4 linked regions of the Homo sapiens genome follow. The protein of the gene in region 1 purifies or fractionates together with the protein of each later gene. This does not show direct contact. Each region holds a gene or a part of one and is shown in the gene's direction. Other genes may lie near its edges. The genes, in order: NCOA7, RAB3GAP1, DIRAS1 and GABPA.

Region 1 (3,672 bases):
TGCAAATAGACAGAAAATTATAAGAGAGAAAGTAGCCCCACTTCCCCTGAGGGTGGGGACTCTGTGTACATCGTATTTCTTTTCTTGTTGTAGTCTTCATTACAGCTCACGGACCTTTACTTCATGCGCCTCAGTTGCACCAAAGTAAAATTAGAAATCTATTAGGGGACAGTGAAATTTGAAAATGAGGAAGCCCAGAAATGAATTGCATTTAAGACTTTGCTGTAAAATGATTTTATTAAGAATTGACAATGTATTCATTCTTTCTTATAGTCTATCTTGATGGAACTATTAGTTTGTTATTTATTCATATTGCAGATAAATTAATAGTATCTATCAAAAGTAATTTTTTTTGCTTTATTTATTGACTCTTACCTGTTTGATTATTCTAGGCTGGAAACCAGGACACCCTAAACTCCATAGCACTGAAATTTAACATCACTCCCAATAAATTGGTGGAACTGAATAAACTTTTCACACATACTATTGTTCCAGGCCAGGTAATTATACTCTTACTGGATATAACTCTAGAAATTCTGCATTTATCTTTTATTGCCGTTTTCAGTGCCTCACTATTGTTTGTCACAGGATTATGATAAATGATAATGTGCTTTGGTTCAATATTTTCTCTCCTTTATTTTTATTTATTTATTTTTTGAGACAGGGTCTTGCTCTGTTGCCCAGGCTGGAGTGCAGTGACACCATCATGGCTCACTGCAGCCTCAATCCCCTGGGCTCAAGCAATCCTCCCACCTCAGCCTCCCAAGTAGCTGGGATTACAGACATGAGCCACTGCACCCAGCTCAACTTTACGATATTTTCATATTCACAGGATACCTTGGCTACACATGCTTAAAATTTTTTTCCAGGCTGAAATGACAGCATTGCTGTATGGTTAAGAACTTTAAGACCTCAAATCCTGATTGGCATATGTGTTGGGAGCAAACCCAAAATTATTTTCTGAAGGCAATAGGAAACTTTCACCCCTGCCCATGATCCAGGCTCACTTCCATGTTGAGGTAGCACATGTTCTGGCGGCTGCTCACCTCTCTTTACAGTGCAGTCAACTGTTTAAGCACAGGAATTACTCCTTAGATTTGACATTTGGAATGTTCAGACAATTGAATCGCAATCTATGTTACCTAATACTTTTTTTAAGAGTTCAGATGCAAAAAAAATTTACTATTAGTGGAGAATTGCTTGGGAAAAACATCATCCATCCATTACTCTAGTTTAGCTATATAAGATAAATAAGAGCTATATACCAAGATCACAAAATTTTAGTCCTTTGTAAATTGCTTTTTACAGAACTCTAAACTTTGGCATTTCCATTGACCCATATTGAAGATGCTATAAAAGGCAATACTCCAAAACTGGTTATTGTATTTACTGTTAGTGCATCATAGAGGACAAATAATTCAGTCTAGGATGCTCCTTTGTATGAGATTCTGTAGGAGAGTACTTGTACTTCTGAGAAACTTCATTTTTATCTCATGGAAGTTGAATTCTGCTAACTAATGATGTTGTCTCTTTGCATTAATTATATGGAAACTCAGAGTCACTTTTATGGCCCACTTCTTAATGAGTGGTTACCAGTTTTGGTGCATATATTTTTAGTAGTTATCAGTCCTCATCTTATATCCCCCCTTGACTTTGATTTTCCCACTTTTATTTTAATGTGTTTTTTTATTGTTGTCTCAAATATTTTCTGGATTGAAGTGAGGTTTAAATGACTGGAAAGATAGGAGACAGTGAATAACAATATTGATCAGTAATCAGTTGTTATATGATTAGCTCTGAATTCTGTTTTATAACATTAAAGGTCATCATTTTAAGATTATATTTGGCCGGGCACAGTGGCTCATCCTTGTAATTCCAGCACTTTGGAGGCCAAGGTAGGCAGATCACTTGAGGTCAGGACTTCAAGGACAGCCTGACCAACATGGTGAAACCCCATCTCTACTAAAAATACAAAAATTAGCCAGTAGCCAGGCTTGGTGGTGGGTTCCTATAATCCCAGCTACTTGGGAGGCTGAGGCAGGAGAATCTCTTGAATGTGGGAGGTGGAGGTTGCAGTGAGCTGAGATTATGCCACTGCACTCCAGCCTGGGTGACAAGAGTGAAACTCCATCTCAGAAAAAGACAAAAGATTATATTTGATACATGCCACAATGTAGCATGTCTCATTAAAAGAATATTGAATGACAGGATTGTAGTAATGTTTTGAGAACCAGAATGTTTTGCAGAGGTTGCTATTCTGTATAATTTTTTGGGGTGGGGGTAGTTTTTAGTTACACATAACCCAGACACTGTTGGAAGAGAAAATATTGGGATTATTTTATTGATATTACCTTATACAATTTATCATATAAGGACCTACTGCTTTAGAACTCAGAGCCTGCTTGGAGTTAGCAAGCTGGGTTTGTTCCATTTCTACCTGGCACAGATATTAAGTTTAGAAGCCATGCTTCTCTCTCCTCATTTCCCTTATACTATTAGTCTCCCACCTTGGAGGGCTCTTCCCTCTCTCCTATCCAATTTCTACTTGTTCTTCAAGGCTTCAGTTGGACCCACTTGCTTCACTTGGCCTGCCCAGAATACTTACCCACCTTGCTCTCTCTTTTCTTTTTATTTATTTATTTATTTATATTTTATTTTATTTTATTTTATTTTTTGAGGTGGAGTCTCCCTCTGTCACCCAGGCTGGAGTGCAGTGGCACGATCTTGGCTCACTGCAACCTCTGCCTCCTGGGTTCAAGAGATTCTCCTGCCTCAGCCTCCCCGAGTATCTGGGACTACAGGTGCGAGCCACCATGCCCAGCTAAATTTTTTTGTATTTTTAGTAAAGACAAGGTTTCACCATGTTGGCCAGGCTGGTCTCAAACTCTTGACCTCAGGTGATCTGCCCACCTTGGTCTCCCAAAGTGCTGGGATTACAGGCATGAGCCACTGTGCCTGGCCTTGCTCTCCCTTTCTTTTTGAGTTCTTGCAGTGTCTACAGGCATGTTCTGTACCCTTTGTACTACACACATTCATATGCTGAGTATCATTTCATGGATTAGTCTAGAAAACCGTAAGTTGCTTATGAGTTTCTTGAAAGCAACCTAGGTCGTAATCATGCACTGAACATGATACTGTGTAGAGAATAACTTCTCCAAACACTCACTAGTGGTTTGCCTGGTTGCTGGTACTCACCCATCTGTTCTCTCCCATTCTCAGGTCCTTTTTGTGCCAGATGCCAACTCTCCTTCCAGTACCTTAAGGCTATCATCATCCAGTCCTGGTGCTACTGTCTCTCCTTCATCATCAGATGCAGAATATGATAAATTGCCTGTATGTATATTATGCACTGAAGTTCATTTTTATTAAAGAGACTTCTTTTAAGTTGTAGAATTCAACATGTTATTTTTCACAAGATTACATCTGAAATTCTCCCTAGATGGTTGAGATTAGGTAATTGGAGAATGCATCCTCTCCAAGGGAAACTTATTCACATTTAAGGTTTCAAAGGCAAAAATGGCCAGACACAGTGGCTCAGCCTGTAGTCCCAGCACTCTGGGAGGCCGAGGCAGAAGGATTGCCTGAGCCCAGGAGTTTGAGACCAGCCTGGGCAATATAGTGAGATTCTGTCTCTACGAAATATTTTAAAAATTAGCCAGACATGGTGGCTCA
Region 2 (3,672 bases), on another chromosome or scaffold:
AAACAATTGAGAGGAACAGTGATAAAAGGACTGTAAATAAATGTCTATAGAGAGCCTCCTTCTTAAGACTGTATTCTTAAAAGAATGTTATTCAAATCATGTAGCTCAGTTGTCATGTACACTGGATTTTTTTTTGACCACTCGTACATGTACATATAAACAGAAACCACATGGAAAAGGTACATTGGTTATTATAGGTTTAGACTGCTTCCTACTTTCCAGGGGTATCATAAAATAAAGCTGTGGGTCTTGAATATCATCTCTTAGTAGTCTATATATGAAAGCCTGTGGATGATGTAACTCTTCAGATCCTCATGAGTACATGAGTGTTTTTAAATTGTCTTTTGTGGTTTTGTTTTTTAGATAGTAGTAACACTAAAAAAATGTAATGGCCTTGGGTGAGCATGAAGTCACAGTGATGAGATTTTGCTTTTGCACCTTTCAGCTTACAGAATCAAGTGATTACTTTTAAGAAAAAAATTCTAATTTCTAAAATTGGCTAGTCACTGAAACCTTGTATATTTTCAAAGAAAAATAGAAAAAATTTGAGAGTGTAGAACAAACTGGCCAATACAACTGGAACATTTCTATTGTTAGAGCAGCAAAACCATTAAAAAGTTAAATAATGTCTATATGAGTTATAAAAATCAACAAAATAGGAAATGTGGTCTAAAATGTGATTATTTTTTTCCTTTCCTTCAAGTTCTTATTCCCTGATGCTGTTTCTGAGAAACCATTAGATGGAACTACTTCAACAGATAATAATAATCCTCCATCAGAGAGTGAAGACTATGTAAGTTGATGTGGAGTTCAATGTTAAAATGTTTTAAATGCACTGAATTTCTAGAGGTTCTATATATTTCTAGTTTAATAGCTTACTATATTTTTATTTTAAAAATCACCTTGGGAATTTTGGATGGCAGATCGTGGTTTCCACTTAGATAACTAGCACAGATACATATTTTGGGTAGCAAGAATTTTTCTGGAAACAATGAAAAAATAGCACAAATATACTCTACACAGCTGTAGGATTTCCCTCATTGTAGAGTTTTGGTGAAATCATTAAATTTGTGTTTCTCAGCAGATTCTTTTTGATATTTTAAAACTAGTTAGTGAATGGACAACTCTTTAATGAAGTAAAATGTGTAAAATTAGGTAAAATTTTCATGGTCTCTTTGTCTAGTCTTTGAAAAATTAAGAAGTTGAAGAATTTAAATGACAAGTGTAGATATATATCAACCTTTACAGTAGTTATTGTTGAGAAGTAGATTTGATGAGGTGAGAGAAAAAAGCAAAGGCTTTTTACATTTTCAGTTTAGATAGTTATGATTTTTGTTTTTTCAGACGTGCTCATTTTTGTAATTAAAAGATTTTTAAAACAACACATGAAATTTGGAATACTTCCTAAATATTCCACAGAAGAAATTGAAAGCTGTAACTTTAGCTTCATTAAACTATAGCTTTATCTTTTTTAATCTTAGTAGAAATCTTGAAAATGTGGGACTTCCTAAGAATAGTTTATGCAGTAGTGTATTAGACATTTGATAATGCCTAGTTTAGGTGGGATAGGTTAATTTTACAATTAAAATCTCTCCCTACGACCTTTTCAGTTATATGTGTAAAATATTTTGGTAACAAGTTTGCTTTGTTTCTATTTTGTTAAATTTAGAATCTCTACAATCAGTTCAAGTCTGCACCATCTGACAGTTTAACATACAAACTGGCTTTGTGTCTCTGTATGATCAATTTTTACCATGGAGGGTTGAAAGGAGTGGCACACCTCTGGCAGGAATTTGTTCTTGAAATGCGTTTCCGATGGGAAAACAACTTTCTGATTCCAGGGTAATAATTTCAATTTTCAATTGTTTGGATACGATTTTGTTTGTTAGCAGACATTTGACTTTTGACCTATTTTTTCCCCCTTCTAGGAAGTCTGCCCTAAGAAAGTGGCAAGAAGCTTAGACATGATTTATGTTCAGAGGTGTTCACTGCAGCAAATTTATTAATATAATAGAAAAAAAGGCAAAACCTAAATATCAAACATAAAAGAATAGTTAAATAAATTATACTGTATCTCTACAATAGAAAATTAGATTGATTACAGTTTTTCCCCCAATAATCTTTAATAACAGATGTTCATATTGTTTCTAATAAAGTAGAATATTTTAATGCATATACAAAGTACTTTTAATTATGTTGCTATATTTGTACAGGAAAAATATTATAAATACTGTGAAATGCTATCAGTTTTTCCCAGTGTGAAATTATACTTTTATTTTGTTCTTTATACTTTTATGCATTTTCAAAGTCTTTTGTAATAAACCTGTTTTTTGTAATTGACATTTTACTTAATCAAACAGAACATTTTCATTAGCACATAGGTTGATATTGCATAGTTTAGTGCTCATCTACCCATGCTATGATAGGAGAATCATGATTTTGAGCAATATAAAATGATTACTGATCCAAAAACATTTATATCATTTGCCAATCTCTGCTTAGCTGGATTCTCTCTTGGTTTTAGACAGTCCGCTCTGGAACATTTTACAGACCCAGAAGCATGTTGAATATGAGGGAGTGCCTCTGGCTGATTGCTGGGAACCTAGTAGTCTAGAGGAACCTAGAACTAGAGACAGTCCAAGGTCCTATTGAAATACAGGTGGAGATCTTGGTTTTTATAGTGAGAATCCACTGTAAGAATTTAGTACTGAATACACAAACTGATTTATTTTGTATGGTGTGAAATACTGTATGCTAGTACTTCCTGGAGTGGGTTCAGGGGCTTTTTCTCATTTTGAGTTTTTGTTAGCCTGAAAACTATCACTAATTTGCTGTTATGTTTTGAAATATCTATTATATTTGCTATTGGTGATTTGTGGACAAGGAGTATAAAATAAATTTTCATCTTTTAATTCTATGTGCTCCCCCTCTGGAATTCACTTACCTTACCTGTGGAAATCTAGTTTTGATTTCTTATCAATATAGCTAAAAATTATGGTAGTATAGAAAATAATCATATCTGAAGCAATTTTACTAAAACTAAGCTTTCTTTTCTCCTTACTTTATTTGATAGATTAGCAAGTGGACCCCCAGATCTGAGGTGTTGTTTACTGCATCAGAAACTACAGGTAAAGATTTCTCAATGACATGGATAAATGTGGTCTTGATTTAATCAGATTATTCTAATACTAAATGTAATAATGGGTTACATGCTGTTCTCATGGTGCTGCTGTAGGTTGCCTATAGTCAGTAGTCACTGCAATTCACAAGGTCCTGAGAAGTGGAGAGTGAAAATTAAATATTCAAGCAGTAGGTAGATTTTTATTTTTCTGTAACTAATTCAACTATAAATGTTATTTCTCTTTTCTTAAGATGTTAAATTGTTGTATTGAAAGAAAGAAGGCACGTGATGAGGGGAAAAAGACAAGTGCTTCAGATGTCACTAATATATATCCAGGGGATGCTGGAAAAGCAGGAGACCAGTTGGTGCCAGATAATCTAAAAGAAACAGATAAGGAAAAGGGAGAGGTAGGAAAATCTTGGGATTCCTGGAGTGACAGCGAAGAAGAATTTTTTGAATGCCTAAGTGATACTGAAGAACTTAAAGGAAATGGACAAGAGAGTGGCAAGAAAGGAGGACCTAAGGAGATGGCAAATTTAAGGCCGGAAGGA
Region 3 (2,325 bases), on another chromosome or scaffold:
ACCCGACCATGTGCGGCTTCCATGAGGATTGGCCATCTCTGGGTTGGCGGAAGAGCAGGGGACCCATGGTTGTTGGAGACGGGCACCGTTTGAGCCACCAAACAGGCTCAGGGTGGCATGATGGCTCGGCAAGGTCTCAGAGCCAGGCAGGTGTGGAGCGAGAGGTGGAAGCCAGGCCTGCTAGCTTCCAGGGGCCCCTGCCACACTGGGAAGAGAGGGGGAAGCTGGCACAGCCTGGAAGGGACACCCACACCCGGGGAAGGAGTTTCGTGGGCATCCCGGCGTCTCCCACGCCTCTCCTAGCTCAGCGTCCCCCGGGGAAGCTCAGGCCCCAGATTTTGTTAGGGAGAAGTAAGCAAAGGGTGTTGGCTGTGCGCCCGCCTGTGGGACAGAACTGCAAAGTCAGCCACAAGCAAATGGGCCTTTTCAGGAGGCAGGAGGCACGGCAGCCACCTCCTCTGAGAAGCCGCCATGTCCTCCTCCCTCCCCGGGGCGTGGGGCTGTCCCCTCAAGCCTGGGTGGCCTTTGACGTGTGACCCTCCTCTCTGCACAGGCTCGGTCTGGGGTTCTTGCAGCTGGCACCAGCCCTCCCGGCCCCGGCCGCCCACCCGCCGCGGGGAAGATGCCGGAACAGAGTAACGATTACCGCGTGGTGGTGTTCGGGGCGGGCGGCGTGGGCAAGAGCTCGCTGGTGCTGCGCTTCGTGAAGGGCACGTTCCGCGACACCTACATCCCCACCATCGAGGACACCTACCGGCAGGTGATCAGCTGCGACAAGAGCGTGTGCACGCTGCAGATCACAGACACCACCGGCAGCCACCAGTTCCCGGCCATGCAGCGCCTGTCCATCTCCAAGGGCCACGCCTTCATCCTGGTGTTCTCCGTCACCAGCAAGCAGTCGCTGGAGGAGCTGGGGCCCATCTACAAGCTCATCGTGCAGATCAAGGGCAGCGTGGAGGACATCCCCGTGATGCTCGTGGGCAACAAGTGCGATGAGACGCAGCGGGAGGTGGACACGCGCGAGGCGCAGGCGGTGGCCCAGGAGTGGAAGTGCGCTTTCATGGAGACCTCGGCCAAGATGAACTACAACGTCAAGGAGCTCTTCCAGGAGCTGCTGACGCTGGAGACGCGCCGGAACATGAGCCTCAACATCGACGGCAAGCGCTCCGGGAAGCAGAAGAGGACAGACCGCGTCAAGGGCAAATGCACCCTCATGTGAGCCCGGAACGCCCGCCTGCCCGCCGCCCACCCCCACTGACCCCCGCTGCCTCCCCCAACACCGACACCCTCCTCGGCCTCCTCCTCTTCTCTCATCCTTCCTCCGACACCTCGGCTGGGGAAACCGAGGCCACCGCCCCCCCCTCCGCTGCCCCTGCCCACCCCGAGGCAGGGCTGGGGCTTTTCTTCCTCCCCTGCTCTCTCTCCACCCTCCTGTTCTGTCTGTACCCTCCAAAACCAAGAGCCGGAGGTGGCCCCCTTGTCCTGCAGATGGGAAAACAGGATGGGGAGCTGGCAAGAGGAGCTGCTTGTTCCCACCAGGACCAGAGGAGGCTGCGTTTCCCCGTTTCCATCTCTTTCCCTGGGGTGTCCCCAGCCAGACCTGCGCGTCCTGTCCCTCACATTTGATCACTGTGACCTTCTGGGGGAGGGGGGAGTTGAAAATGCACATCGGCCTCAGATATTTTTTTCTTTTTTCTCCTATTTGGTGTTAACATACACCCAAGCCCACCCGGCCCGTCGTGACCTCTGATCTGTGCCCACTCCTCCGGTTCCAGACGCACCTCTCTCCTCTGTCTTCACAGTGGGGTGTGGGGCCCGTGGGATGGGCCTCAGGCCACCAGGCAATAACCACAGGGCCTGCAGCAGTGCCCCTGCCAGCCCCGAATCCCACCCCCGGGACCAGCCACATCCACAGCACAACTGCCCCGCTGGAGAGGCACCATGGGCGTGGAGGGGCTTCCCGGACACCGCCCACCCGGGACCCGCCTCTTCCACCAAGACAGAGACGTTAGCAACGCATGGCGGGTGGGGACCTGGGGTGCTCAGGAGGGGGTACCCGGGGCCCCGGCCAGAGATACATCAATTACACCCCCGTGGGGGGACAGCCGATGGGAGCCAGCACCAGCAGGATCCGAGGGCGCCCCGGACAGAGGTCTGCCCCACCCACTTCCTCCCCACCACCTGTGCCCCAGAGAGCAGGGCCTGCCCGGGAAGGTGGCGTCCTGGAGTCGAGTGTACCTGCAGCCATGAGGTTCTGGGTGTTTTTTGAGAGAGTCTGAGTGACACCACACTCGTGTGACCCCACAGGGTTGTGTCCAACATACA
Region 4 (3,672 bases), on another chromosome or scaffold:
CCATTTGGGAACATATAAACTAAATTATTTTTTGGTGACTTCTGCGTTTTCATTTAGATTTACAATTTTTTTTTATCCACTGTTCAGGAATTGAACCAAAGTTAAACATCCTTGAAATTGTTAAACCTGCGGACACTGTTGAGGTTGTTATTGATCCAGATGCCCACCATGCTGAATCAGAAGCACATCTTGTTGAAGAAGCTCAAGTGATAACTCTTGATGGCACAAAACACATCACAACCATTTCAGATGAAACTTCAGAACAAGTGACAAGATGGGCTGCTGCACTGGAAGGCTATAGGAAAGAACAAGAACGCCTTGGGATACCCTATGGTAATAAAATGCATAATTCTATATTGGGTAGAATAATAGGAATTAAGCTTGACATAGAAGACACTAGGGTAAGTTATAATCTATTTTACATGTAGAGTTATTAGGATGAATGTTGATTTTCTGTATCTCTCTTTTAATTGTAACGCACATTTAAGCTCATGTGGTGGACAAATTCTGTCCTGCGTGCAGGAAATACAAAGAAGTCTAAAAAATTTCTGCTCTTAGGGTGTTGAGAGTGTAGTTGAAGAGAGAGAAGATAGATGAAAAGAGATGATTGCCATAAAAGGTAACATGTTTTTAAACTGCCAGTAACTCTTGTAGAAGTATGCTATTGGAATCTCAAAGAGATCATAGTTGCCCTGAGGGAAAGCTGAAAAGAGTTTATTATAAATAAGATACCATTGGGCAGAGAAAGACATTTAAGACAGGAAATGTTATGTGCAAAGCTTAGACCTGGGGGTATGCATGAGTAGTGAGAAAATGGAGTGGTTAAGGAGTTACTCTGTAGCATTACAGAACTGTTTTTGATTGATGAAAATGATAATTGAAAAATGAATATGGTGGCAATATATGGCATAAGTTGGAACAGGTAGAGACTAAGTGAAGGGAAAACAGGAGCATATTATTATAGTTGTGACTGGATGATAATGTCTACATTAGCCCAGACTCCAGATGATTTCTTTGGGAGTAGCAAGGAAAAAGTGGATGAAAACAGTGATAGGACTGAGCAGATTGACAGATTTTATGAGGGTAGAGAGGGAAGATACAAGTATTGATCTAACTTCTCAAGCTTCATCTTGGTGACTAAAACAGTAATAATCTTGATAAAAATTGGTTCCATCATCATTACATATTTAGTGAACACTACCGTACACCAGGCACCATGTTAAATGCTGGGCTTAATTAAGATGGTGCACTATGAAGAGCATGCTTTCAAAAGCCCAGTTGGGGAAGTAGAGAAGTCTGGTATAGGAAATGTTTTTTTCAAGAGAAGGTGGATAGCACTTGATTTTGATGTGGAAGTTTATATTCAGCTGGAGGTTAGCCAGAAAATGGTTTCAGTTATATAAGATTTGGGCTGGAGACAAAGATGTTATATGAGACTCATTCCCACTGAATTTATATTTGAAGCTATAAAAGTCTACGTAGTCCCTGATGGAAAGCGAGAAATGGAAAAGAACACACAACTAAAGGCATATACACTTGACCCTGTAAACATTTAGGGTTGGAGAAAAGGGAGACAAGAAATAACTGAAGAGACAGAAAGAAAGTAATAACTTATATGTATAGTGTCACTGAAATTGAGGGGAGAGTTTGGATGGTCAAGACTCTCAGATGCTGCTGAGAAAGTCAAAGAATGCTGACTGATATCTATTAAATTTGATGATCAGAGGATTATTCTTAAATTTAGACAGAAGTAACTAGAGTTGGCGAGACAAAACAGAATTATAAGAAATAGATATCTTAGAAATGGGGGCAGATGAGGAAGAATGCTGGGGTAACAAATAAATAATACTGATCTTCCAAGAGTTGGCGGGGACCTGAGTGTATTTGTAAATGAAACAGTATTGTCGGGTTTTTGTCCTTTTTTTATTTTTTATTTTTAGAGACAAGGTTGTACCTGGGGAGCAGGGCTGATGACAGAAAGGCTGTATTGTAGAACCACTGTTTTCCCTAGGACATTTTTTTTCTTTCTTTAAACCAAACCTAAAAGATACACAGTAAATGAGAGAGCTTACCCATGGAACTGAAAGAGAGCTATGGAACCAGACAGCTAATGTAGAATTTCAGTCTGTCCCTCCGCTGCCCAGTACTGTAGCCACTAATCACACGTCAGCACTTGAAGTGTCTCTGGTCAAAATTAAGATGGGTTGTAAATGTAAAAATACCCATTAAAAGAAAAAGTATAAAATCTTTTCTAATTTTTTATATTAATTACCAGTTGAAATAACATTTGGAACATTAAGTTAAAATAAATTCATTATTAAGATGTATTTGACCAACTTTTTAAATGTAACTATTAGAAAATTTAAAATTACATAATGGTCTGCATTGTATTTCTGTTGGACAGCCCTGATCTTGATAATTGTAGCCTTCAGTTCTGGATGTTCTTACTGCATTATTTTGATAAATACCTGTGTTCTTTTTGCTGGAACTCCTGTTGAATCTCTTGAGTTGATCTGCTGCATCTTTTTTCTTGTTTATTTTTCATCTTACCTATCTGCACTACTTTCTGCCAGATTTTCTTGTGTTTTTAATATAACCTATCTGATTTTTAATTTACAAGGGCTCTTCATTTTTGTTTGTTCCTTTCTGTAGCATTCTGATCTTATATTGCCAATATCGTGTTTTCTCCTACTTCTCTGAGTATATTGATTATATATTTTTTTTTAACTTTTAAAAAGCTTTACCGTGGTATATCTGTTTCTTGTGGATTCTGTTTTTCTTGTGGTTTTTGTTTGTGTTGTTTTTAACCTTTCCCAAGTATCTAATTATTTTTGCCCATCTTTTCATATTTAAGAATTAATCACTTTAGGCCAGGCACAGTGGCTCATGCCTGTAATCCCAGCACTTTGGGAGGCTGAGGCAGGTGGGTCACTTGAGGCCAGGAGTTTGAGACCAGCCTGGCTAACATGGTAAAACCTGTTTCTACTAAAAACACAAAAATTAGCTGGGCGTGGTGGTACATGCCTGTAATCCCAGCTACTTGGGAGGCTGAGGCACAAGAATCTCTTGAACCTGGGAGGCGGACGTTGCAGTGAGCCGAAATTGCACCAGTGCACTCCAGCCTGGGCAACAAAGTGAGACTCCATCTCGAAAGAAAAAAAATAAGAGTAAATAACTTTAAAGCTAATTAATGCGAAGTTCTGAAGGATTTGATAACTATATGCTGATAAAACGAGGCATTGACTATTTCATTAAAAGAATTTCAGGCCAGGTGTGTTGGCTCATGCCTATAATCCCAGCACGTTGGGAGGCTGAGGTGAGAGGGTTTCTTGAGGCCAGGAGTTTGAGACCAGCCTGGGCTATATAGCCAGACTGTCTCCAAAAAATAGAAAAAAGAGCTGGGCATGGTGGCATACACCAATATCCTAGGAGGCTAAGCTGGGAAAATTGCTTGAGCTCTGGAGCTTGAGGCTATAGAGAGCTTTGATGGCACCACTATACTCCAGCCTGGGTGGCAAAGCAAGACTGTCTAAAAAAAAAAAAAAAAAAAAAGGGCAAAGAAAAGAGTTTCAAACGTGTCAATATTTATAGATCTTTTTGCAGATACCTGTCAGCAGTAGAAGATAGGGGTGAGCATTTGGGGTAGGTGTGTATGTGAATACTGTGTTGTGG

Evidence for each region.
Region 2: the proteins of NCOA7 (region 1) and RAB3GAP1 fractionate together in Homo sapiens (co-fractionation; one large-scale study listed by BioGRID). This does not show direct contact.
Region 3: the proteins of NCOA7 (region 1) and DIRAS1 purify together in Homo sapiens (affinity purification with mass spectrometry; one large-scale study listed by BioGRID and IntAct). This does not show direct contact.
Region 4: the proteins of NCOA7 (region 1) and GABPA fractionate together in Homo sapiens (co-fractionation; one large-scale study listed by BioGRID). This does not show direct contact.

Annotation. Positions count from the first base shown.
Region 1 is NC_000006.12:125,877,871-125,881,542, forward strand, and holds part of NCOA7 (nuclear receptor coactivator 7), read left to right. Parts: intron 1-392; coding exon 393-500; intron 501-3,219; coding exon 3,220-3,333; intron 3,334-3,672. UniProt on the Homo sapiens protein: Enhances the transcriptional activities of several nuclear receptors. Involved in the coactivation of different nuclear receptors, such as ESR1, THRB, PPARG and RARA.
Region 2 is NC_000002.12:135,132,192-135,135,863, forward strand, and holds part of RAB3GAP1 (rab3 GTPase-activating protein catalytic subunit), read left to right. Parts: intron 1-703; coding exon 704-793; intron 794-1,669; coding exon 1,670-1,842; intron 1,843-3,073; coding exon 3,074-3,128; intron 3,129-3,372; coding exon 3,373-3,672. UniProt on the Homo sapiens protein: Catalytic subunit of the Rab3 GTPase-activating (Rab3GAP) complex composed of RAB3GAP1 and RAB3GAP2, which has GTPase-activating protein (GAP) activity towards various Rab3 subfamily members (RAB3A, RAB3B, RAB3C and RAB3D), RAB5A and RAB43, and guanine nucleotide exchange factor (GEF) activity towards RAB18.
Region 3 is NC_000019.10:2,716,104-2,718,428, reverse strand, and holds part of DIRAS1 (GTP-binding protein Di-Ras1), read left to right. Parts: exon of another isoform or gene 1-117; coding exon of another isoform or gene 118-150; intron 151-553; coding exon of another isoform or gene 554-622; coding exon 623-1,219; 3' UTR 1,220-2,325. UniProt on the Homo sapiens protein: Displays low GTPase activity and exists predominantly in the GTP-bound form.
Region 4 is NC_000021.9:25,751,902-25,755,573, forward strand, and holds part of GABPA (GA-binding protein alpha chain), read left to right. Parts: intron 1-87; coding exon 88-333; intron 334-3,672.